Homo sapiens: one gene and its partners. The protein of the gene in region 5 interacts with the protein of the main gene of each other region in a pairwise test. Each region holds a gene or a part of one and is shown on either strand. Other genes may lie near its edges.

The links.
Region 1: the proteins of MAL (region 5) and CLDN14 interact in binary tests that used the Homo sapiens proteins (3 or more experiments, as listed by UniProt).
Region 2: the proteins of MAL (region 5) and TMEM207 interact in binary tests that used the Homo sapiens proteins (3 or more experiments, as listed by UniProt).
Region 3: the proteins of MAL (region 5) and PTPRN interact in binary tests that used the Homo sapiens proteins (3 or more experiments, as listed by UniProt).
Region 4: the proteins of MAL (region 5) and LSMEM1 interact in binary tests that used the Homo sapiens proteins (3 or more experiments, as listed by UniProt).
Region 6: the proteins of MAL (region 5) and CPLX4 interact in binary tests that used the Homo sapiens proteins (3 or more experiments, as listed by UniProt).
Region 7: the proteins of MAL (region 5) and BTK interact in binary tests that used the Homo sapiens proteins (3 or more experiments, as listed by UniProt).

Annotation. Positions count from the first base shown.
Region 1 is NC_000021.9:36,473,623-36,477,122, forward strand, and holds part of CLDN14 (claudin-14), read right to left. Parts: intron 1-3,500.
Region 2 is NC_000003.12:190,447,102-190,451,148, forward strand, and holds the start of TMEM207 (transmembrane protein 207 precursor), read right to left. Parts: upstream 2,801-4,047; 5' UTR 2,709-2,800; coding exon 2,634-2,708; intron 727-2,633; coding exon 689-726; intron 1-688.
Region 3 is NC_000002.12:219,292,402-219,295,901, reverse strand, and holds part of PTPRN (receptor-type tyrosine-protein phosphatase-like N isoform 1 precursor), read left to right. Parts: intron 1-760; coding exon 761-927; intron 928-1,701; exon of another isoform or gene 1,702-1,791; intron 1,792-3,500. UniProt on the Homo sapiens protein: Plays a role in vesicle-mediated secretory processes. Required for normal accumulation of secretory vesicles in hippocampus, pituitary and pancreatic islets.
Region 4 is NC_000007.14:112,479,620-112,483,790, reverse strand, and holds the start of LSMEM1 (leucine-rich single-pass membrane protein 1), read right to left. Parts: upstream 2,801-4,171; 5' UTR 2,445-2,800; exon of another isoform or gene 1-2,444.
Region 5 is NC_000002.12:95,046,208-95,049,707, reverse strand, and holds part of MAL (myelin and lymphocyte protein), read right to left. Parts: intron 3,194-3,500; exon of another isoform or gene 2,930-3,193; intron 2,433-2,929; exon of another isoform or gene 1,750-2,432; coding exon 1,582-1,749; intron 128-1,581; coding exon 2-127; intron 1-1. UniProt on the Homo sapiens protein: May be involved in vesicular trafficking from the Golgi apparatus to the cell membrane. Plays a role in the maintenance of the myelin sheath, and in axon-glia and glia-glia interactions.
Region 6 is NC_000018.10:59,294,902-59,298,275, forward strand, and holds the end of CPLX4 (complexin-4), read right to left. Parts: intron 2,025-3,374; coding exon 1,797-2,024; 3' UTR 501-1,796; downstream 1-500.
Region 7 is NC_000023.11:101,379,692-101,383,191, forward strand, and holds part of BTK (tyrosine-protein kinase BTK), read right to left. Parts: intron 1-3,500. UniProt on the Homo sapiens protein: Non-receptor tyrosine kinase indispensable for B lymphocyte development, differentiation and signaling. Binding of antigen to the B-cell antigen receptor (BCR) triggers signaling that ultimately leads to B-cell activation.

The DNA of each region.
Region 1 (3,500 bases), on a different chromosome or scaffold from region 5:
TTCAGGGAGGGACTGAACTGGAGAAGTCTGTTTGTGTCACCACCGCATGGAGATGGGATTAAAATATGGGATGGAGTCTCTTAGGAGGGAACGTTAGATAGAGAGGAGCAGGGGCTCCAGGGCTGATTCTAGGAACCCTCCAACATCAGGGGAGGGATGAGGATAGAGGTAGGAAGAGGAGCCAGCCACGGGCTGTAGGAATGGGCGATAGTGAACGGTCAACCCAGAGGAGACTGGTGAGGGAGGACAGAGCTCCATGTTGGAGAGAGCAATCTACTCTGTCAAGTCAAGTAATCTGATAAATCAAGTCATCTGAGCACTGAGAAGTGGTCACTGGATTAGCAACATGAAGGAAATTGGAGACCTTGATAAGCTCAGTTTCGGCGGAGTTGATTGGAGTGGGTTCAAGAGAGAATAGGGACAGAGGGACAGGAGGGAATGAGCCCAGAGAATTCTTTCAGGAACTTGGACCCTCCAGGGGAATCAGGAAATGAGGCAACAGTTTTAGGATGGGTTCCAGGGCCCATAGACCTCAGGATATCTGTCAACTCAGCCAGGAAAAAAAGTGACATCTTCTATTTCATCTACCTCTCACTGACAATTAGCATTTCCTTCAATCCTGAATGTAGGCAGCCACCTACAGCAATATGACCAGTGCCTGTGCCTTAATCAGCAATAGAGACCATGATATTTTGCATCGCATTACAGGCGTTGCAGATACCTGCAAAGGACATTTATCACTCTAACAATTTCAAATGATACTTATAAGATGCTTGCTAGACCTCATGATGTAATGCATTAATAAGGAAGGTCGTCCATTACTAGGAACAGAATTGCACTAAAATATTTTGATAACTATGTTTTACTATAATTCACTTCCTTTATAATCCTGCATGTTATGTGTTATATTACACATTTAAAAGTATTGTGCTGAGAAGAATACATCAGCTTCGCCAGATTGCCAAAGGAATCCCAGGCAATCCCCATCCCGCCACCCAGAACAACACCGATAACAAAAAACTAAACCAAAAGAGTTAGAAACCTCTGCCAGTGGGATGTGTAGGCAAGAGAGGACCCTTGTTTTGCTGTTGTTTTGAAGATGAGAGGCATGGAAGCATGTTTGCATGCCTGAGGAAATGGTTCAGCGAGGAGGGAAACATCTGTAGGGGCAGTAGGGATCCTGTGTGCACATGGAGAGACCAGCTCTGACCAGCATGCAGAGAACTCACTCCAGAACGGGAGGGGAGGCGGGAGCAGGAGGCTGGGGGAGATGTCAGTGGGCAATAACGCATGTTCTGAGTTTGCTCCAAGTTTCTCAGGGAAATAAGAAGCAACATGATGTCTTGAGACAGGAGATGGGGGAGGAGGTGCGGGAGGCTTGAGCACAGAGGAGGAGACCATGGTCATCCAGGAGAATGACCGCAGGCCTGGACCAAGTCAAGGGGTCAAGTGCTAGTCAGTGCCGGGTGCAGGTGGGGCAAGTGGTCCTGCGGGTACCATAGACTATCACGCCGGACAGCCTTTCCCAGCACCATCAACTGCACTGCGAGGGTCCCAAGTGGACAAAGGGCTGGACTGGACCTGGTGGGGATTTTCCTAGGGGAAAATGATGAAGGCAGACAGCCAAGGGAAATATGCGTGCACACAAAGGTGTGAACATCATGGCGGGCCGTGGCGTCAAAGCTGGGATGGAGGGACATTGAGGACAATAGAGAAGGTCTGTTCATCGTGGAGAAGTCACCTGGATCAGTGGCTCTCCACCCTCCTGCTGTAGCCGCAGCCCTTGGAGAGCTTTAAAAAGATCCGGATGCCCTGGCTACCTCCAGAGATTCTGATTCGCTGACTGGGGTGGGGTCCATGCATGGGAATTTTCGAGCTCCTCTCCCCCACCCGGTGATTCTGATGTGCAGGCAGGTTTGAGAACCAATGGCTTATTTATTTCATTAAAAATTATTTTTCACTCTGTTGGCCAGGCTGGAGTGCAGTGGCACAATCACGGCTCCCTGCGGCCTTGACCTCCTGAGCTCAAGTGATCCTCCCGCCTCAGCCTTCCGAGTAGCTGGAACTTCAGGTGTGAGCCACTGCACCCAGCCCCGCTGGCTTCATTGATTTAACTTTTTTTATTTTATTTTATTTTATTTTTTTGAGACAGAGTCTTGCTCTGTCACCCAGGCTGGAGCACAGTAGGATTACAGGTGCACGCCACCACACCCAGCTAATTTTTGTATTTTTAGTAGAGACGGGGTTTCACTCCGTCTAGGCTGGTCTCAAACTCCCGACTTCAAATGATCTGCCCTCCTCGGCATCCCAAAGTGCTGGGATTACAGGCATGAGCCACCACCGTACCTGGCCTGATGTAACTTTTAAAGGTCCTATTAGGAGCTTTAAAGAGTCCAAAACGGTTTAACAGAGAGTCATAGTTCAGATGTCTGTTCTGCTGGGCCTGCCTGCTGAGTGCAGGCTCTCTTTGGGATCTCCTGAGATGGAGACAGGTGTCTCTGGCCTGTCCCTGGAATATTGTCTCACCTACCCATAAGGCTAGGCTCTCCCACTCCCTTCGCTTGAAATCCTCTTCTCCAGCTACAATCTTACCTTCCCTCCTGTGGCCCTGCACCCTTGCCTTCTGCCATCTAGAAAAAGTGGTTGGGGGGGTGGTTCTTTATTTATCTTGCTGCCTTCTGGCTCTTACCTTCCCAGAGCCCCACGGAAGCCTGTTCTTACAACCTGGGTCCTCTTCCTGGGACCCCAGCCCACTGTGGGCACTGAGCCTCCCTCATTGTTAATCTTGGCCAAGAAGTTACCCCACAGGCATTTATATTTTAATGGATGACTATTTTTTTTTTTTTTTGAGTCAGAGTCTCACTTTGTCACCCAGGCCGGAGCGCGGTGGTGCGATCTCAGCTCACTGCAACCTCCGCCTCCCAGGTTCAAGTGATTCTCCTGCCTCAGCCTCCTGAGTAGCTGGGATTACAGGCGCCTGCTACCATGTCTGGCTAATTTTTGTATTTTTAGTAGAGACCAGGTTTCACCATGTTGGTCAGGCTGGTCTCGAACTCCTGACCTCATGATCCACCCGCCTTGGACTCCCAAAGTGCTGGGATTGTAGGCGTGAGCCACTGCCCTCGGCCCATGGATGACCTTTGAAAACAAATCTCCTCCTGGCCCAGGCCCCAAAGCATACACTCACAGTGGTGAGAATGATTGGGTGAGTCTTCCAGAAAAGCCTGTGATAGTTTGATATAAAGACATTTAGAATTAATTGGGTCAGGTATGAGATTTCAGATTGCAGAAATCCTTGTGTAAGCAAAGGCCTTGCAGCTAAAGTAGTGCATGGCAGGTGTGGCTTAGCCTTTAGACATACACACAGTGGCCAGATTGTGCATTTGCTCTGAAGAGTACCAGGCCCTGTAGGTTACCTTTGCCTGCTCTCAGGACTTGCTAGATAATTTGCAGAACCCAGTGCAAAATGAAAATACAGAACCCCTTGTTCAGAAATTATT
Region 2 (4,047 bases), on a different chromosome or scaffold from region 5:
TGGCTTTGAGTGTAACAGGCAATGAAGACTGAAAACAGCTGCTAACAGTAAGGGCTGCAAGCAGGAGAAGATAGTGCTGGGTGGAAGTGCTTTTCTGATACTAAATCACAATGAATTACAGATATTAATTATCAGTATCATTATTAATGGCACCTTCTCTTCATCTCCTGAATAGAATTCTGAGAACCATTAAGTCTATCGCACAAAAAGTGAAAAAATTGAGTCAATTGTTCACATAATTCATATCACAAGCACTTTGAAATAGACACACAGTACAGGTTAGAATTTTGGTCAGTTTGCTTGTATTTTAAACTGAGTTATACAGAAAACTGCCTCCCTTGGTCACTGTGATTTTTGAGTGTGGATGAAGCCATAGATGACATCATGATTCTTTTATGAACTTAAAGTACCCTTGAAACCTTAAGGAAGATAAATTCAGTGTGCAAAAATATCTAGAAATCAACTAGGCCTCTTATTTATTTAACAAAGCTGATCGTAATGAAAATTATCTTTCCTGTTTTCAGAAAAAAAAATGGAGCCATCTGCATTTACAAACCATTTACTTTTCTTCTGATTATAATGATCATTTGAAACTCAACTGGGCTTTTTCTAATGGCTTGAGCCTTTTTTATACTTTGAATTTTTTAAATGCGAAATAAAAACATGGAGTTTTTCGCTGTTTACTTACATTTCATCTTCTTCGCATGGTAGGTCCGAGAGCACCAACTGAAACACATGTTTAGAACAATAAAATCCAAACATCTCATCAGTCTAATCCTTTAATACAAGCAGCGCCTAGAGACAATGTGGGTTTATATCATTTCGTTTGCTTTTTTAATTAAAAGCTCTATAGCAGAGTTTATTGTTGGTACACAGAATTTTAATTGAAAAAATCTCTGGGTGGATTCTTAAGCTCAGCAGTGGCAGAAGATATATATTGTGAACCAGATTCCATTTCTACATACCAATATAAATGGATTTTACGACAATTTTTGTTTTTTCTATATGCAGATTTTGCTTGCTCTAAAGAGCTTTTGTGCACTTTGCATTTTTTGTTTTCATGTTGTAGCTAGAGGTCAGAGGTTCATTATTAGTGAGTATTATTTTCACGCAAAAAAAAACAAGTTCCAAGTACATACATGGAAACAGAAGTCAAGCCTATTAGCATTAATGGGCATTAAATATATATTCATGAAAGGGCGACTTTAACCTGCTCTAAGGGTAAGGTCCATTTAAGATCACATGACATTCCAGTTGAGATTTACAGTCTTCTCTTTATCAGAGAAGAGAAAAAAAGTAATCATCTTTGTTGCTTTGTTTGAAAAGTCCAATACTATAAGCATTCTAAAATAATGCTCTTAGTTATCTGCACTGAGTGTCATAGGTTACAACATCTCATATACTAAATCACAAGGAAAAAGGCACTTCTTTCTAAAGATCTTATTATCTATTTGCTTGCTTGACCCTTTGAACCAGGACTCCTTCCTTGTACAAGGAGAAAGTCTTTAAACGGCATTTATGTGTAGCTCTGAACACTTAGTTGATGAAGTCAGTTGAAGTATTTATTTTCCTGGACTATAACACGCAAATAAAAGTACAAGTAAGAAGTTACAAAATTTAAAGTGATAGACTTGGGAGTTCTGTGTGAGATGTGTCTTTTCCCCCCTTAATCCCAAAAGCATCTTCTTCAGCACCTTGTATTTACTCCACCAAGTTTATCTGGGCAAAGAGATTTGTGGAGTTGCAGATGGAGCCATGAATTGGCCATCAGAGAGCATGGTAATGAACAATTTATAAGCACAGAAAATGAGTTGCATTCTTTTTTGCTAGAATGCTGCAAATAGATTTGCATACTAAGTGAAAGGAAAATGAACATTCACATTTTGTCCATAAAGAAAGTTTATTTATGAGTAGATGAAATCGTTTGGGATCCAGCTTAACAGATAAACAAATAAAACCAGTATTTCACTTTCAAGTCACTTCCGTGTTTTTTCTGTGTGTTGTACCCTAGCAATAGTACACAGTATTAAATTATTAGCACCTCACTGCCAACACATTAGCTGTCAAACTTCCAGTTATTATGAAGAGGTAAGGAAAGCTATAATTTACTTTAGATCTAAATCTTTCAGATACCTTGCATTGAAGTCACACAGATCTAGAGATGCACGTGTTAGTCAGAAGGGGATGCTGGAGCAGAGGAACTGAAATAAATCCTAAAATGGTTCTGTCTACATCAGTCAGCATTGAAAAACTGTCAAGCATCAAGTATGGTTGTAGGCAATAGTAAACATGTCTTAAATTAATCTAGCCATAGCATTTTGTTCTGTGTCAATAGCATTTTGAATTTAAAAAATTACAGCATAGCAAAGTTAAACAAAGGTTAAATTTGCAATCACGTTATTTCAGTAGCAATAGAACTAATTGAAGGAGAAATAAGACTAATGCCTTGGACATTTTGTTTTGTCCCTCTGACCAGTGAATACAAGAAATCATAAGATGCTAGTAAAGCTTGAAGGAAATCTTTTAAATGTAGAAGCAGTTAAGTTGCTCACATATAAATCTATAGCAAATCAAGTCCTCAGAGTACCTCAGAGTACCTCTGAAAACCTTAACCCAGAAAGAGAGATAGTTACCTGGAATAGCGGCAAACACAAGATCCCTATCGTTGAGATCGCTGAGGTGACACTGAAAAGTCTGGATCTTGACATATTTAAAGGACAGTCAACTTAGGATAGTGGTTTGGTGCCTGTGTTTATTTCCTTCTTTCTCAGAACTTACTAGCTTCTCTATAAGTTATGCTTCCTACCAGGACATGCATTAATAATGGCTCCTTGTGACTCGTAAAGTGCATGCTAGGGGAAGGAATGTTGGGTACATGTTTACAGGTACTAAGAGCCCAAGGAATTTAAGTTTAAGGTGAGAACTTTAGCACTGTTTGTCAAGGCCTTTAAAAGTAGGGGTTATAAATGCTGACCTACAGAGCTAGCTGGCTACTTAATAACTTTCCACATTCAAGTGCATGTTTTATTCCAGGGAACTTCTGGGTTTCTAATAGTATTTCATATTTGGAACATTTATTCAATTTTCTTCCCTTTGTTGGTACTCTTTGTTCTCCTACACACCATTTTCAGTTCCAGGTCTAACCCAAACTTAGGCATAAAGCTTTCCTTGTTTTATTGTGATAATACCCCTCTTTTAAACAAGGTATATTTCAATGTTTATTTTATGAAACAACTCCATCACTACCACTGAAAAATAAAGCAAGAATATCTAGGGAAATTCTGAGAAAAAGAAAAGGCACTAACCTATTGTACATTAAGATGTCTTAATCTATGCATTTTACAAAAATTAGTACTGATATGTGTAAATAATAAGGTAAATGTAAAAGAGTAGAGAGTTTAGAAATGGAGAGTTTAGACTCAAATAAACAAATTTATTTAAGCTTCCATTTGAAACTAGTGGAGAGAAGATGGATATCTTTCAGGGTATAATGAAGAGCTAAATGGTTATGTGGAAAGAATGTAACAAATGATTGTTAAGATGCTTAACCTCAGTCATAATTAGATAAACATACCTTAGAATTATAATCAGATTGGCAAGTTCAAAAAATTGATAATATAGGGAAGAGGGATAAATACTGGGAAACAAATACTCTCATATACGGTTGGGAAAACTGTACAGCTTATTTGGAAAACAAGTAGGCAATATACATCAACATAAAAAATAAATATGCCCTTAGAGCAAGAATTCTCCTTGCAAGATACATGAATGTACCCCTTACACATGGCACAAATTACTATATGCAATGATGTTCATCGAAGCATTGTTGGTGTTAACAAAATATTGGAAACAGCAAATATTCATGAAAATGTGACAGACTAAGTACAAAATGGTTATATAAATTCAACAGAATACTAGGAATCTGTTTTAAAAGGTGGAGACAGATCACAGATGCTGATATAGAGAGGTCTGTAATAGTTATTGAATAAAAGGAACAAAAATCACAGAACTTTGTGTACATCATGTCACATTTGTATGCAAAAATAG
Region 3 (3,500 bases), about 120 Mb from region 5:
CCGAGGTAAGAAGCTAACAGCTAAGTGTATATTAGACAGGGAAGATAAGGATACCCAAAGACTGAGATTAAGACCTACGTTAATTGAACCTAATTTAGCTCTGAGTTTCCTGGTGGCCAAAGCAAAGAAAGACATACCACCCGTTACATACGTTACTAATGTAAAAGAGAAACAAACTTTTTCATTAGGAGAGAGACTAGGTGGAGGGGTGGAGAAGGAGGGGGAACTGGGCAGAGGCCAAGCAGGGGAAAGAGAAATATTTCAGACAAATGGGAGAACGTGAGTCCCCACTAAGACAAAAAAACCTTAAGAACACAGCAGAAGCTTCTCATCACCAGATGAGCCTGAATAGTAATTTTTTCCCCACCAAATAAGCACATGACGGTTTTTTTAAAAAGCCTTTCATTGGTCCTGCTGGTGGTTAACGAAAAAAATCCAGTAAGAATACTACAGAATTTCATCCAAGTTTATGGCACGTGTAGCACCGATACTCTGGTAGACCCTGCGAGGAAGAGGGAGGAGAAACTCCGACCTCGAGAGGCTCACAATAGCTGTGTCTGGGTGGAAAAGCTACTAGTGGTCCTGAGCAGTAGATAAGTGACAGGCAGCCAGGGTTCCTGGGACCGCTGGAACTTAGAATTTGAACCGGCCTGGGAGGCCGGGCGGTGGTTGGAGAGACCGAGAAGGTCGCGAGGAGAGCGCGCGCAACGCGGGGACTGGGGCAGCCCGCGGCGCTCAGGCCTGGGCCCCTGCCGGGCAGGTGAACCTGGTGTCGGAGCACATCTGGTGCGAGGACTTTCTGGTGCGGAGCTTCTACCTGAAGAACGTGCAGACCCAGGAGACGCGCACGCTCACGCAGTTCCACTTCCTCAGCTGGCCGGCAGAGGGCACACCGGCCTCCACGCGGCCCCTGCTGGACTTCCGCAGGTGAGCGCGGGCGCCCCCGCCTGGAGGGACCGCATGGGCGGGGGCGGAGCCGGGGTCCGCCCGCCGCTCGGCCTGGAGCCCCGGGTCGGGCCTGGAGCCTCGGCCTCTGACTTCTGGCCGCCCGCTCCAGACCCCACGCTCCCACCCCTAAAAGCAGGCCTGAGGCTCCGGCTGTGCCCTTCCCCGAGCCTCCACCACCCGCGTGGGCCAGCTCCGCGCCGGCCGCTGCTGCTCTGCTCCCTCCCTCTCACGCTCCCGGGACTGGCTCCTTCTCCTCCACCTGCTTCCTCCAGAGGGCCCTCTGCTTTCTGTCTCCCCTCCCTCTCCAGGACCCCTGCTTCCTTTCTCCTTCCAGTTCCCTCCTGCCCCGCTGTCTCCAGGCCCTGCACTGCGCTGCCTTGCTGCCCCCTCCGTCTCTCACTCCCGCCTGCCCGTCTCCCCTCCTTCATCCCTCTCCGTCCCTCCTTCATCCCTCTCCGTCTCTTCGCCTCTTTTTTCTGTGTCTTTCATTCTTTTTCCTTTCCTCTTTCTTCCTCTTCTCTCTCCCCATCTCTCTCTCACTCTGTCTCTGCCTCACCCTTTCCCTCTCTCTCCATTTCTCCCTCTCCGCGCTTCTCTTCCTTTCTCTCTGCCCTCTCCCCTGTTTTTCTCCACCTCCTTCCCCTGTCTGCCAGTTTCTCTCTGCTGCTCTGTCCGTCTCTCCCTCTCCCTCCCGCTGCCTGTCTTTCCTCTCTCTGTCCTTCCCTCTCCCTTCTTCCCTCTTTCTCTCTCTCCCTCACAGCTGCCAGTGTCATTTTTGTGATCTGCAGCTAGTATTCTCACTCCAGTTGCATAGTCACAAAAGTGATCATTGGCAGGTGTGGCTGCTGCATGGACAGACAGGACATGTGGCCCGGGGACCACCCCGAGCTGGGAGCAAGGGGTACAGGGAAGAGGCAAAGACTGTCGAAAGGAGTGTGGGAGGATCTCTGGATTCTGGGGGGCTCAGTGGAGCAGGTGGGGACTAGACAGGGGCTACCTGAGGGACTTACCCTTTTCCAACACTGACACCAAGACAGGTCAGCCCTCCAGCGTCCCCTGCTTTTCCTAGCCCCAGACAGGTACTTGGGAAGCCCACTACCAAGGGCAGGGGCCCACCCACACTGCGCCCTTCTCCTGGTTCTCTGTCCCTTGCCAAGCTGGCCTGATGTCTCTAGGTACTGGACAGAGGAGCAGAGCTGGGGGTGGGGACATGGGTATAGTTTCTGAACCTCAGGACAGCAGTTTCTAACTGGGGTCCCTGAGGCCTGAGACACAGGCGTCTTGAAAGCAGTGCCAGGGTATCAGAGCTATTTCCTTTTTTCCATATTTAAAAAATCCTGGTAGAACTAGTGCATGGATCTGTTTTAAAGCTGCACAGATAAGCTAAAAGATTGCTTTAGGCTGGAATTATGTAAACTCAGTTGGCATTAGACATCCAGAACAAATAAACTGTTGCTTAAGAAATGCAGTTCGGGGCCGGGCGCGGTGGTTCACACCTGTAATCCCAGCACTTTGGGAGGCCGAGGTGGGTGGATCACTTGAGATCAGGAGTTCAAGACCAGACTGGCCAACATGGTCAAACCCTGTTCTGCCAAAAATACAAAAATTAGCCAGGCAGGGTGGCGAGCGCCTGTACTCCCAGCTACTCGGGAGGCTGAGGCAGGAGAATCTCTTAAACCTGGGAGGCAGCAGTTGCAGTGAGACGAGACCGTGCCACTGTACTGCCACTTGGGCAACAGAGCCAGACTCCCTCTCAAAATAAATAAATAAATAAATAAATAAATAAATGCAGTTTGGTCAAGCCCCCCTAGAAGGAAAACAAATTAATAAAAGAGACCCTAAGAAAGTGACCCTGAGTAAGTTCCTTGGCTTCCCTCCATTCCGCTACCTGTGAGATGGGGATGATTACACATACTTTAGAGCAGAGGTTCCCAACCTTTTTGGCACAAGGGACCGGTTTTGTGGAAGACAATTTTTCCACGGCTGGGAGAGGGGGTGGTTTGAGGATGAAACTGTTCCCCCTCAGATCATCAGGCATTAGATTCTCATAAGGAGCTCACAACCTAGATCCCTCACATGTGCAGGTCACGATAGGGTTCGCACTTCTGTGAGAATCTATTGCAATGGCTGATCTAACAGGAGGCGGAGCTCAGGTGGTAATGTTCGCTTGCCTCCTGCTATGCGGCTCGGTTCCCAACAGGCCATAGACTGACACTGGTCCATGGCCCAGGGATTGGGGACCCCTGCTTTAGAGGGCTGTTGCAAGATTTGATAAAGTATGTAAAATCTAGTGTAAGTGCCTGATACATAGCAAGGGCTCCGTTAATTCTAGATGCTGCCTATTATCATTATTAAATGAGCAAAAACAACTATTGTGATTACTCTTCTACCCTAGCCCTCTGACGTAACAGCCAATGAGCTAGAAAACCATGTGGACTCCTATGAAGCCATTCTAAGTCACCTGGTCCTATAGCTGAAGGACTGTGAAGTTCCAAACTTCAATCTGACAACCCCTAAGAAGGTCTTCCCTGGTTCTGGCTTGCAGGGATATC
Region 4 (4,171 bases), on a different chromosome or scaffold from region 5:
AATGGAAGCTCGGCGAGGTAAATGCCCAGGATCACACATTTGCCTGGCAGCAGAGCTGGAATCGGGCCTTTTGTTCAGCATTCAATGAGTCTTGCTTTGTGCTACTTTTCTTTTCTATATCCCTTCCTAATCCTGCCTCAAGACTCAGCTCAAACATCACTTCCCCTAGGAAGAGAGAACCAACCTGTCTTTCCTTTTGCCTTTGCTGGATTCTTTACATTCTTCTATCAGAACATCTGTAGTATTTTATTGCATCTATTTGCTTACATCTTTGATTTCCCGATAGACTGAAAACTCCTTAGAGTAGGGACGAATCCTATTCTTCAAATGCCCAGTGCCAGGTTTAGAAGTTGGTGACTTATGTTAAGATGGAACACCTGAAATGTTTATTTAGGATTTAAATCTCACCATTTTCAAAAGAATTGGAGGCAGTTAATAATAAGTACATGAACAGAAATAAGATTGAGGATAAAAATCCTCATGTGATGTCTATCTGGACTCTAGTAAAGTCAATGCGATAAATATGGTGCCTGTGTGTATTTGACAACACACTGTTTACTTTCTGTTGTTGCAAAAATTTCCTTTAAAACTCATCTACAGAATGAAGAGCAATATAGAGTTGGGAGAAACCAAATTCATAAAAAAAAAAAAAAAGTATACACCTAAAGAAGATGTGGGGAAAAAAAGTATCAGACACTTACTGAGCAATTTAAACTTAGTCTAAAATATTAAAAAAACAATTTCCCAGTAATACCTAAAACTACTGGTACTTGTGAAAAATGTGCTACCAGAACCCTAGCTAAGAAAGTGAGCTCAAAAAGTCATGGACTAAAAATTTTTTTTAGGGTTAAAACTAAAAAAGTGTGTTTCACTTATCTTGAAATTTTAATTAACAAGAACAAACAATTCCCTGAGTTTTCAGATAAGATACTACCATAGCACTTTATTGACATTACTGAATTCCAAATATACTTCATAGAGCATTCCTAAGGAAATGACTTGATATGACAATTAAAAAAAATTAAAAAGCAGCAGCAAATAGAGTAAAAGGGCCTTAGAGGTCAGTCAAATCTTATCCTTTTGCAGTTAAAACCAAGGCCCCAAAATATTCACTCATGCATAGTCACAGATTTTAAAACAATTCTTTTAGATGTGTTTCATATTTTATCATCCATTTATACTAATATTTGACCAAACAGTAATATGTGACCAGGAAAAAAAGTTTTATGTGTCACATCACAGGACCACTGTTCTGCACACAGCTTCTATTTTAGGTGTGGTAACTGAAGCATGGTTCATTTTTGGATCTCTGACTTAATAGCCTTGAGCCTTAGCTTCCCCTTCAGGAATGTATCTGCTGTTGCTTCAATTTCATACTGAGGCTTAATCAATGTTTACAAAATAGAGACCTAGCTAGAAAATCATGGCCACAAAAACTGACTTTAAGAGTACAGCTAATAAAATCTCCATATTACTGGTCTTGCTATCTACTCAAAAGGTGACTCCAAAAAAAACTAAGACAACAACCTAGTGAGCCATGACGTGCTTTGAAAGAAAATGTCTTCTTTAGAGTGAAGTCACAATGTAAATATATGCTATTCCAATATTTTTTTAATGAGCTGCAACACGCAAATGGAAAAATAAAGAACTAGCAGAGAAAACTGAGTTGGGTGCTGTTCCAGGGCTCCAAGAGCCTGCAAATGACTTGCAAATGACTCATGAGGCTGCTAGTAAAGGGATACAAGATCACATGGCCTTAAAACCAGGCCCCACGGCTGTTTGACACCCAGTAGTTGCTATCTTTGGCATCTCCAAATGAGGGCATCTAGGAACAACCAGCAAGGCTGGAGAAGCCAGTGTTACTAGCAATTCTTCATCACACTAACTTGACCCTCCTTTCAACTCCAGTGTGCAAATTTGCTTATTCACCAAGATTGGCTAAAGCAGCATCCCTTTAACAGAACCCTTTCTTATACCTTGACTGGAAACATGTAAGTAATTTCATTTTCCTCTGGTTTAGATCACTGCTAACAGTTGATTTTTTGTCATTTAAGAATTCTTTGACTATTTACAAATAAATATTCCAACAAATAAAGATAATTGTCTATGAAAAATTGCCTGGTGCTTTATTTTTTAACCAGGCAGGTGCTTGGTATCAAACCACAGAAATAACTCACACCAGTATTGCTTGCCACAAAATCAGAATTGTTATAATAGGGCATAATTCAAAGCTAATAAGCAGTGTTATTGAATGAGTCATGGTAATTTGTTCTTTAATTTCATTTCCCAGTCAATGCCTCTTCACATTCAGGAAGTAATTTTTAAAATCAAGTCTAAATCATTTCTATCAAAAATGAAAAACACAGAGCACATGCAACAAAAACTTCCCAGACTCGAGAATCATAATTCAGTCTCAGTAGAGTAATAGCATGCAAATTACTTACAAAAATGTGAGCTTTGACTGCTAGGTTACCAGAAAAACAAAACAAAACAAAACAAACAAACAAAAACTAATTGTTCAGAAGCAACTACAACAAAACTTTTCTACAAATTCTGTAGTTCTCTCTTTGCCTTTCTTCAGCATACGGGTGCTCCTATGAGACCCATAAGCCCCAGGATGAAACTGTTGGTCTATATTGTGTCAATTTAGCCAAGCAGTGTAAGATTCCAAATCCTGACTTTTTTCATAATGTCTAAGGTTTTTAGTAAATATATTACTAAAACTATGCTTTAAAAAGAAAACAACAAAAAAACACCATGCCCTGATTTAGTTGGTAACTGATGAGGTTTTTATTGGACTGAAGTTACCGTCCTTATCTGGCTGAAGCAACTGTTAGCTGACACCACCTTTCCAGCACTCCTGCCATGGTATGCTTCCATATATAAATATCCTGTAGCAGGCGGAAGCTGCCACTATGATGACTGACTTGCAAACACTCCAGACAAACCAGAGAACTGCAATAAACACGGACAGAATATGATTATGACATCATAACAAGGATGATGGCAGGTCAGACGCCTAGTGCTTCCAGTAGCTACAAAAAGCGATTGTGAGTGGGCGATTTCATGGATACAGACCCACCACAGGTGAAGGAAGCACTCCATCTCATCGGCCGCCTTTCCTTTACAAAGGCTTTGTTCTGTGAGTGTCTGCACATCCTCCTTTCTCAGGAATAACAGCCTTCCATATATGTGGTTCCCTCACATACATGCCAAGGAGCTTCTGCCCTCTGCTGTACATAAAAGATGCTACAGTGATGAGGAGACCAACTATCTCAGCAGGATACTAACAGTGAGGTTGTGAACAACTGTGCAATCCTTTATCATCCTCACTTCCATTGCCATAGCTTGATGGACATTATTCATCTTTGAAACATTTTTCATGTCAGTGAGAAAATAGGTGTTCCACAAAATTTTCTTTGAGACAGAGTCTTGCTGTGTTGCCCAGGCTGGAGCGCAGTGGCATGATCCCAGCCTACTGAGACCTTCCTGCTTCCAGATTCTCCTGCCTCAGCCTCCCAAGTAGCTGGGATTACAGGTATGTGCCACCATAGCTGGCTAATTTCTTTATTTTTAGTAGAGATGGGGTTTCACCATGTTGGTCAGGCTAGTCTTGAACTCCTGACCTCAAGTGATCCACCCACCTCGGCCTCCCAAAGTGCTGGGATTACAAACTTGAGCCACCATGCCCGGCCCAAAATTTTCTTTACACCTATATCCCATACGGACCTCACTCTGCTTTGGGGGAAGAGGAATGTCATTTTTTTTTTCCCTTCACACTACCTAGTCTAAGAGGGAATGTCATTTTTTCAAGCCTCATCTGTACCCAAAGACTAATTCTTGGAGGAAGACAATATAACTAGTAACTTTTCTCAGAAACATACGTTAAAAAGCTATGTCAAATTTCTCTGAATAATGAAAATGTTCATGTTAGCTATTATGCTGTTTTTAAGAAATCTCCCAACTACCTGATCTGCCTTGAGCCATGTATCCTTTGAAGATATAATAGAAGTAACTGCCTCATTTTGGGGCGTTTACTACTTTTCCTCTCCTGTAACTTCTAACTTTGTGGAATATTAACTTCCCCTGAAGGAGGAAGGAAATGGAGACTAAGGAATTTAATTGTTGAGGGATACACTGATTATAAGTGGCAGAGATGAGATGTAAACCC
Region 5 (3,500 bases):
CCACGGCAGCAATGTTTTCATGGTAGTGCCTGTAGGTGAAGCCGTCTTGCATCGTGATGGTGGCCAGGGCCTCCAGGACTGAGGCGCTGAGGTAAAAGAGGGCAGCGGTGCAGTGGTAGGCTGCGTCCTATGGGGCAGACGGGGTGTCAGAGGGATGGGGAGAGAGAGACGGGGCCCAGATGCAGAGCTGAGGTCCCCTCCACCCCCGCCCCTTGCCTCTCCCCCCACTTCCTTTGAATCCCACCCCTCCCAACCTTGTCACGGAGGTCCCATGCCTGCCCTGCTGTGCTGAGTCTCACTTCACTGCTGTGGGGCCAGAGTGAGCACTTTGCTGGGGATGGGACACTGGTCTCCCCTGAGGAAGGGTCAAGGGAGAGGTGGAGGAAGGGCCAGCAGCTTGGGGTGTCCCAGGGAAAAGCTGGTCCTGGATCTGAGAAGTGTCGTGCATGGCCACAGTCCAGGTTGGGTGTGGCCTCGCTGACCAGTGCAGGGTGAGGGAGGACCATGCTGTTTCTTTCGTTTTGTTTTGTTTTGTTTTGTTTTGTTTCATTGCTTATTTTTGGCCCCTGGTATATTTAAAAGCAAAAAAGGGCTGGGCGTGGTGGCTCATGACTGTAATCCTAGAGCTTTGGGAGATTGGTGCAGGAGGATCTCTTGAGGCCAGGACTTGAGACCAGCCTGGGAAACATAGTTAGATCCCCATTTCTACACAAAACAATACATCTTAGCTGGGTGTGGTGGCACATGCCTGTAGTCCCAGCTACTCAGGAGGCTGTGGCAGGACGATCACTTGAGCCTGGGAGGTTGAGGCTGCAGTGAGATGAGATTGCGCCACTGCACTCCAGCCTGGGTGACAGAATGAGACCCCCAACTCAAAATAAAGTAATAAATGAAAGCAAAAAGGTACTAAAACAGGGTTTTGTGTAGTTGTGATTTGGAAGTGATTTCAAAAGTCTAAGTAGCAGAGCTTTTGAGAGTGACAGCCTTGGCCAAATGGCCCCACCACCCCTACAGCAGGTAACAGGCAAGTGTCCTACATGTAAAAGTTACCTTTTCATGGGTCTCAAAGCAGAATTTATACAGAATAATGACCAAAGGCCGCTTCTGTTTCCCAGTGCTCTCTGGCAGCCCTGCTTGGAAGGCAGTGGCTGAGGAGCTGGACAGTAAGCATGGCCTGACCCTCAGAGCCAGGGCCAATTTCTGGAGCCCAACACCTTGGTCGGCCTCTGGGGCCCTGCTGCCTTGAGGTGAAAACAGCCCTTGCAGGTGATGGGAGGGGCAGGCAGGCACCTGGCGGGTACAGGTGGTGTGGGGGCTGGGCAGCTGGTTATCCATGGAAAGGCAGTCATGCAGGAGAACACAGAACAGGTCCAGTGAGGGTTGGCAGCGGCGACCTTGCCTCTGCCCCTGCCTCTCCTGATTCTGCTGCCAGGAGCCCTGGGCAGGCTCAGCCTTGGAACATGGTGGGGTGACATCTACGGAGAAGTCTCACCTGGCACTGGAAAAGCCCATCCTACTGGGCCAGGGACCAGTACTTCCTGCGCCCCCCTACAACCAGCAGCCACCCTGGGCTGGACTCACCAAGGTGACCCAGGAAGTCTCTCCACCGTGGGCTCCAATTATGTACAGGATGATCAAGGTGGTGGTGGCCACGAAGCAGAACACAGACACGAACATCACCCAGCCCTGGACCAGGGGCCAGGGCACCAGGGAGGAGGCCACCAGGATCCACACCAGGCCCCCGAAGATCTGCGGGGGAGGAGGAGGGGTGAGTTTTGGCCTAGAGGAGAGCCCCAGCCCAGGAAGGGCCCCCGACCAGCGGTCACATGGGGTGACTGGAGTGCAAAAACACAGGAAGCAGGCAAAGAGAACAGGGCAGGCATTTTCCTCTGCAAAAATGCATCTTTAGTCCCCCCAGGGCCCTGTGCTGGATCTCAATCCCAATCCCCGGCACGCTTGCCCTGATTAACTTTTTAAAACTTTTTTTTCTTGAGACAGAGTCTTGCTCTGTCACCCAGGCGTGAGTACAGTGGCGTGTGGCTCACTGCAACCTCTGCCTCCTGGGTTCAAGTGATTCTCATGCCTCAGCTTCCTGAGTAGCTGGGATTACAGGTGCATGCCACCATGCCCAGCTAATTTTTCTATTTTTGGTAGAGACGGGGTTTCACCATGTTGGCCAGGCTGGTCTTGAACTCCTGACCTCAGGTGATCTGCCCTCCTCAGCCTCCCAAAGGGTTGGGATTACAGGCGTGAGCCACTGCACCTGGCCTGAGTAACTTTTTAAATATGGGTTTAATTTTTTTATTTAACAAACACTTATATCAGACCTACATTCCAGGCACTATCCTAAGCACTTTACAAATAATAACTCAGTGATTCTCACAGTAACCCTCTGAGCAATGCTGACCTGTTTGCCAGATGAGGAAACTGAGGTAGGTGGAAGTTAAGTAATTCATCATTCTGAGAAAGGATTTATGCCATTTGGTATTGTCATGAGAAGAGCTGCTATTTCTTCTGATATTCTAGCCCTCCTACTTGCTTTGATATTAAAATGTCCTTTCCTTTATGCAATGGTAGTGACCAGCAGATCTTTTTGGTCTTTATTTGGCAAAACAAATTAACCACACTGTCAGTAGTCCCCTGCCCTGCCCTTCCTTTCTTTCTCTCTCTCTCTTTCCTTCATTTCTTCTTCCCTCCCTCCCTCTCCTTCCTTCCTTCTTTTTCTTTCTTTCTTTCTTCTTTCTTTCTTTCTTTTTTCTCTTTCTTTCTTTCTCTTTCTCTCTTTCTTTCTCTCTCTTTCTCTCTCTCTCTTTCTTTTCTCTCTCTCTCTCCCTTTCTCTTTCTCTCTCTCTCTCCCTTTCTCTTTCTCTCTCTTTCTTTCTCTTGCTCATTATTTCTTTTTCTGGATTCAACTGTTTATATTCCCAAGTCCAGGAAGTGTTCTGATGATCAGATTTGGAGTTGGAATGGAGTAACCAAGGACAGCCTTGTCTCTTTGGATGGCTGAGGATGGGCATGAGGAAAGTACAGTCCCGTGGTTATCCAGAATACACCCCAGTTGATGTCGCCAGGGTCAGTGAGCCCCATACAGTCAAAGAGGAGCAGACATGGGGGCCAGTAGCACCCCTCAGTAGCCCAGCCCCGCTCCTCGCCGTGGATGGACACATACAAACCCGCTCCCCACCGCGGATGGGTACGTACAAACTCCGTTCCTCACTGTGGACAGGCGTGTACAAACCCCAGCGGGGACTTTCTGCACTTCTCTTTCCCTTCTCCTCATCTCCCCCAGCGCCACCCCCACCCAGTAAGAATCAGCTCAGCCTCATCCACATGTTCCCCACTTGGATGAGGACTGGGCTCGAAGCACTCCAGGCCTATGTGGAGATTCCTTTGCAGCCAAAAGTCTCCAAGGTACTACAGAAGTGTCTGGGGGGCTGAGGATGGGGCTGCCCTCCCAGGCCTATGTCCCCTGTGGTTTGAATTCACATAGCACCTTGACC
Region 6 (3,374 bases), on a different chromosome or scaffold from region 5:
TTCATTGAGACAACGACCAAATTGCATTGGAGTAATGTTGGCAGTCAAGAGGAAGTGCCAATTTAGTGATTTCCTTAGCAGAACTGGCTGCATCTTTTACAAGAAAGCACATCTTCTTTGTCATCCTGAGGCTAGAGTGTGGAACAATTTGGCAGCTGTAGTATTTTATGTCATACAAAGTGTACAGATATCAGGCCACATACAGCACCTCTCACCCATCCATACTACCCACCTCACCAACTACAGGGCAGAGTCAGGCATTAAACTGAAAATAAATGTTATCTATTATATTGTAGTTTTTAAAAAAGTGAGTTTTTTAAAGTTTCTGCTATAAAACAAATCACAACTCACATGCCATTTCTGATAAAAGACAAGCACAGTTTTAAAATGTGCCCATGGCATCTGGGTTTGTGGACTAGAAGGCTAATCAGCCTCAATCATTGCACCAATGTTCTCCCAGGAATTTCCAAGACAGATTAAACTTTGCCAAGGACCATAGGTTTTGGACCTCTATTCATTTGTTTTATTTGCTTAATTTTATTACATGAAACTTTTTGTACAACACATTTGAGAACCCTGGGTTTAGAACAACTTAGACCCTAAGTTTTCGGTCTCAGTTTCCTTTTCCTTTGATAGATCTTTATTCACTGTATGAACAGAGTCACCAAAAAAAAAAAAAAAAATCAGTATTTTGTTTTGGTTTGGTGGGCTTTAGCTAAATAGCTCGAAGTGTTTCAGTGGTAATTGTCCTAAGTCTTTTGAATTATTCCTTTTGAAAGAGAGCAGATATTAGGGGGGAAAAATCAGTGTCTACCCTGAAAGCTTGTGGCACCAAATGACAGTGTGATTTACTGGAAGGTAGTCTAAAGGGGTGGGATGGGAAGGGACAGGAGAAGAAAAAAAAAAGAGAGATAGGGAGAGAAGGGGATGAAAGAGAGAGAGAGGTTGGGAGGAGACAGAGAGAGATTGATTTAACTTCTTAATGCTCTCTGTTAGTCTACCCACTTTGTTCCCATTGCTATCACCAAGTTCAGACAAGGAGAGTTAAGCTCAACTCAAAAAGAGCAGCCGTCTGCCTGGTTTCCCTCTGCCTCTAATTGTGCCTCCCTTGGTTCCATTCTTCACATGGCCACTAGAACGATGATCTCCATTGCAAAGGGCTAGTGAGGTCTATTCCCTGCCTCAATTCGTCATTGTTCACCACATCTGTGCTACCGCCACTTGGCTGAGAAGCATCCAAGGACCAAAGGATCCAAGCATACTTGATGAGTATCATTGACAAATTCAAGGATCCTAGAGGTGAGGGGTGGGGGTGGTGACCTTTGATTGCCCTGGAGTCTGTAGACTCAGCTCCCTGTGGGAAACCCGGCTCCCAGTAGACACCTTGACTCTCCACATTTCTCTCTGAAGGGACCTGGTGTCCTGCGAATAGTTGGACAGGGTGAGAACTTGGCCTCCAAGGAAGAAAGTTGGAGAGGAAATGCCCCTTGCTTTTGTTTCTTCCTGGCTCATCTCAAGGTCTTTAAGCAGATATGTGTTCTGCATCATCATTTACAACTGAAATTTTCCAGTTTATCTCATTTATAACTAAAAGGAAAGTAAGGTTCCCGCTGCAAGGTGTTAGCTAAATGCTCTGCCAGGAATATTTAGAACAACCAAATTATTGTCTGTCAATGGATCATCGTGGTTTTCCTAACTGTGTTCACTACATTAAAACATGTACTGCTTGAAACGTCCCACAAGAGAGTGGTCTTTTCCAAGGATGGCTGGTTCCCTCCCTCCACCCCTCCCACCCCTCACATCACGGAACACTTCTGCTCCGCTGTCTGCTTGATTTCAGTGAAGGTGGCCTGGGCTTTTTCTTTTATGGTATCCAAGTCCATGTTCTGGAGATTCTGTATCTGCCCAAGAATAGAATCTTTATCTTCTTCCTCTTCTTGATCTTCATCTACCATTTTCCGGAGATCTTCAGGTAAATCCACATCATCTCCAGCCATCTGGATTTGATTCTCATCCATTTCACTCTATGTGAAAAATAAATAGAGATAGATAAATAACTCTAAACTACTAACTCACTAACTAAATAAATTTTAAAAGCAGCAGGAAAAGGTCTTTAGAGAATACAGGAAGTGAGTGGCACTCTTGGCCTTGCAGCAGAGCCTGGTCCTGATGGCAGTTGTGGGGGCTTCTGTAGGGGGGTCCTTTCTTCATGGCACCTTGCGTCGATCAGAACCTTCCAGCATGGTGGTTCTCCAAGTGTGGTCTCTGGACAAGCAGCATTAGCATCATCTAGAGCCTGCTGGAACTACAAATTCTTGGGCCCCATCCCAGACCCACTGAATCAGGAACTCTGGAGATGGAGCCCAGCCATCTGGAATTTTTTTTTTTTTTTTGAGAGGGAGTCTTGCTCTGTTGCCCAGGCTGAAGTGCAGTATCTCGATCTCAGCTCACTGCAACCTCTGCCTCCTTGGTTCAAGCAATTCTCCTGCCTCAGTAAATCTCAGTAGCTGGGATTACAGGTGTGCACCACCACACTCAGCTGATTTTTTTGTATTTTTAGTAGAGACGGGGTTTCACCATGTTGGCCAGGCTGGTCTCGAACTCCTGACCTCAGGCGATCCAACCACCCCGGCCTCCCAAAGTGCTGAAATTACAGGTGTGAGCCACCACTCCCAACCCCATCTGGATTTTTAAGAATGTCTTTCTCTCTGTGATGCTGATACACACAAAAGCTGGGGCATCACACCCCAACTCTGCCTAAGGGCAGCTTTGCAAGTCTTGCAGATTCTATCAGCCCCATGCCAAGACCCACTCACCTGGTTGACCCCACTGTAGAGGATGAGGTCTCAGTTTATAGTAACTAGACAGTATGCATTAATTCACTCATCACACCTTAGTGGCAACTTTTTCTTAATCATGGCTCTTTTCCTCCCTTCCACTAGACAGGGAGCCCGTCATGGGCTCTTGTCAGATTCAACTTTCCACCGTTAGCACCTGGACTGGAGTCTAGCACACAGTACACATGTATTAAGTGAACCATCAAGGGCATGGCCGCCACTCAGCATACTGGCAGTCTAGCCTTCGGTGTTGCTGACGCTGTCACAAGCGCCTTGCACATTTCATTTTGTGATTTTAGGAGTGTCTGTTCTAGAATTTCTTAATGCATGCTGCCTGGTCTTTGAGATTCCTTTATTTTTTTTTTTTTTTAGACAGGGTCTCTCTCTTTCACCGAGGCTGGAGTGCAGTGGTGCAATCTGGGCTCATTGCAGCCTTGGCCTCCTGGGCTCAAGCAATCCTTCCACCTCAGCCTTCCAAGTAGCTGGGACTACAGGTATGCACCCCCATACTCAGCTGAGATTCTTTTACCACTTAGG
Region 7 (3,500 bases), on a different chromosome or scaffold from region 5:
TGGCTATCATCAAAGAGCAGTTGTGACAAACTCCTCTCCATTTTCTAGGAATGTTCAGCAAGAGAGGAAATGGTGGTAAATACAGGAGATAAGAGAGTATTCAAGATCCTAAGCTCTTTCCTCTGCAATATTCCTCCAGGCTGGTAAGGATGATCTGTCTCTGGTAACTGTCAACTATACTTTTTTTGCACTTGAGGACTCTTCTTAGTCTTGCCAGGTTTTCTTACATTTTCCCTCTTTAAATCATTCCCAAGGAGATTCTGTCTAACTAGTGAATTTCTAGAGTCACTTGTTGTTTCCTTTCCTGGATGTTTCATTGTTGATGGAATGAAAGCACAGTGTTTAGGTGGAACATCCACCCTTCTCTGTCCCTAGGGTTCTTATTGCTTACTGTGAATATAAAACTTTGATCAAATATACCTTCTATTTTTTTGAGACAGGGTCTCACTCTGTCACCCAGGATGGAGTGCAGTAGCAAGATCACCACTCACTGCAGCCTCCACCTCCTGGGCTCAAGCGATCCTCCTGCCTCAGCCTCTCAAGTAGCTGGGACTACAGGTGTGCACTACCACACCCAGCTAATTTTTAATTTTTTTGTAGAGACACGGGTCTCACTTTGTTGCCTAGGCTAGTCTCAAACTCCTGGATGCAAGTGATCTTCTTGTCTCAGCCTTCCAAAGTGTGGGGATTACAGGCATGAGCTGCTGCACCTGGCCTCAAATATACTTTGTTTTATATTATGAAATATTTCAAATAGAAAGTACAGGGACTATAACATTACAATCTTGGACTCACCGCTTAGCTCTACAAAATCCTAAAATTGTGCCATATTGCCTCACGTGTTAAGAAGTGAGATACAATCTATATAATCAAGACCCCTTTATGTACTCCAAAATCTTAGTCTTCTCCCTCCATAGAGATTACCAATATCTTGAGTTTGGTGTTTATCATTCCTAGGTATGTTTTCATATTATTATTACAGATGTAAGTATCTATAAAAGATATATAGTATTGGTTTACATGTTTAAAATTTACATATGGCCAGGTGCGGTAACTCAGGCCTGTAATCCCAGCACTTTGGGAGGCTGAGGCGGGTGGATGACAAGGTCAGGAGTTTGAGAGCAGCCAGCCTGACCAACATGGAGAAACCCTGTCTCTACTAAAAATACAAAAACTAGCTGGGCCAACGCTACTCTCCCAGCTACTCAGGAGGCTGAGGCGGGAGAATCCCTTGAACCCGGGAGGCAGAGGTTGCAGTGAGCCGAGATCTTGCCATTGCACTCCAGCCTGGGCAACAAGAGTGAAACTCGGTCGCGAAAAAAAAAAAAAAAAAAAAAGAAAATTTATATATATATATATGGTACACATTCTCCAGCAACTTGCTTTTTTCCCCTCAATATAATATGTTAGGATTTATTTATCTGGCTAGTTCTACTTCATATGTTTTAATTCATTTTTATATGCATAAAATATTCTATATGATGAATACATTCCAATATATTTATTCATTCTCCTGTTGATGGACATTTAGGTTGTTTGCTTTCAGTGATAAACAATGCTGCTGTGAACATTATTTTGATTTTTTGATCTCAGAATGAATTCTCAGTTACTTAGACAAACTGGCAAACCTAGGTCCAGCTTATCTTTTGGACTATGCAATTTGCATCATTCCTTCTTGCCTTTTCAGTCCTGTCTTCCTGATGCTTCACTATGAAATGTGGTAGAATTATCAACTATCTCTAGTGGGAGGTTAAATTTGGCCTACGGAAAATCTCTTCCCAGTCCCAAGAAGCATCCTTCACGTTCTAACTGAGATTTCAATTGAGAATTCCTTGGCCTTGGGACCAGAAGAGAACGTGTTAAGAACTGAAATACTATCTATATAATCAAGACCCCTTTATGTACTCCAAAATCTTAGTCTTCTCCCTCCTTAGAGATTACCAATATCTTGAATTTGGTGTTTATCATTCCTAGGTACGTTTTCATATTATCATTACAGATGTAAATATCTATAAAAGATATACAGTATTGGTTTACATGTTTAAAATTTACATATGGCCACGTGTGGTAGCTCATGCCTGTAATCCCAGCACTTTGGGAGGCTGAGGCGGCTGGATGGCAAGGTCAGGAGTTTGAGAGCAGCCAGCCTGACCAACATGGAGAAACCCTGTCTCTACTAAAAATACAAAAATTAGCCTGGCGTGGTGGCGCGCACCTGTAATCCCAGTTACTCAGGAGGCTGAGGCAGGAGAATTGCTTGAACCCAGGAGGCGGAGGTTGCAGTGAGCCGAGATCGTGCCACTGCACTCCAGCCTGGGTGACAGAGTCAGACTCCGTCTCAAAAAAAAAAAAAAAGAAAAAAGAAAAAAAAATCATACCCACAGCAACAAAGCAACCTTTAATCTTGTTAAATTCCCAAGATGCTTTTGTTCGGGCCCCAGTGAAACCCAATTATTTTATGATAAGCTTCATAGTCAAGGCTACAGGGGACCAAATTTGTGATGAAGGCATCAAGCCAAACTCAATTTTCGAAAGCTGCATGCTGACCAGGGAAACTCTCCTGCTGTAGTCATTTACAGGAGGCCTTAGGGCTCTCTGGTTCTTCCACAGCAGTTCATGTTTTATTTATTTATTTATTTATTTATTTATTTTTGAGACAGAGTCTCGCTCTGTCATCCAGGCTTCGGTACAGTAGCGCAATCTTGGCTCACTGCAATCGCTACCTCCCAGTTTCAAGCAATTCTCTTGCCTCAGCCTCCTGAGTAGCTTGGACTACAGCCGCACACCATGACACCTGCCTCGGCCTCCCAAAATGCTGGGATTACAGGCTTGAGCCACCGCGCCTGGCCTTATGTTTTTAGCATTTTACATTTTTCTTCTGTGGTTTTGGAAACTTCTAGGTCTCTGTGATTCATCATCTCTTTTTGTCTTGCATTAGCGACAATATATTCTGGCCAACTGATGATGGAAGGAGAGCCAGAGAGCCAATCTGCAAGTTTATAGTCAGTGCCAGATCAGATCAGTGGTAATACTTTCAATATTCTCCCTCTGCTCTGAGGGTGACTGCTGGGGTGTCTGTCTTTCACTCTGGACTTGTGTGCCCTTTTGGCCTTCTTTTTCAACCTAGTTTTTGTTTTCCTTGGCTTAAACATTTTATTTATTTTTTCCATCGATATCAAAATAACACACGCAGCTGGGTGCAGTGGGGTGCACCTGTAGTCCCAGCTACTCAGGAGGCTGATATTGGAGGATTGCTTGAGCCCAAGAGTTCAAGGTCAGCCTGAGAAACATAGGGAGACCCCCATCTCAAAATAAAACAAAATATAGTAAAATAAAACATGCTTATTGTAGAAAATATGTCAAGTACAGGGATATAAAAAAGAAAAAATCATTCATAAACTCATCCAGAGGCATTAATATATCGGCATATTCCTTCCATTTTTTTCTGTGTGTGTTTCTTATAATATTTGAGATCATATTGCACATTCAGTTAATTTACC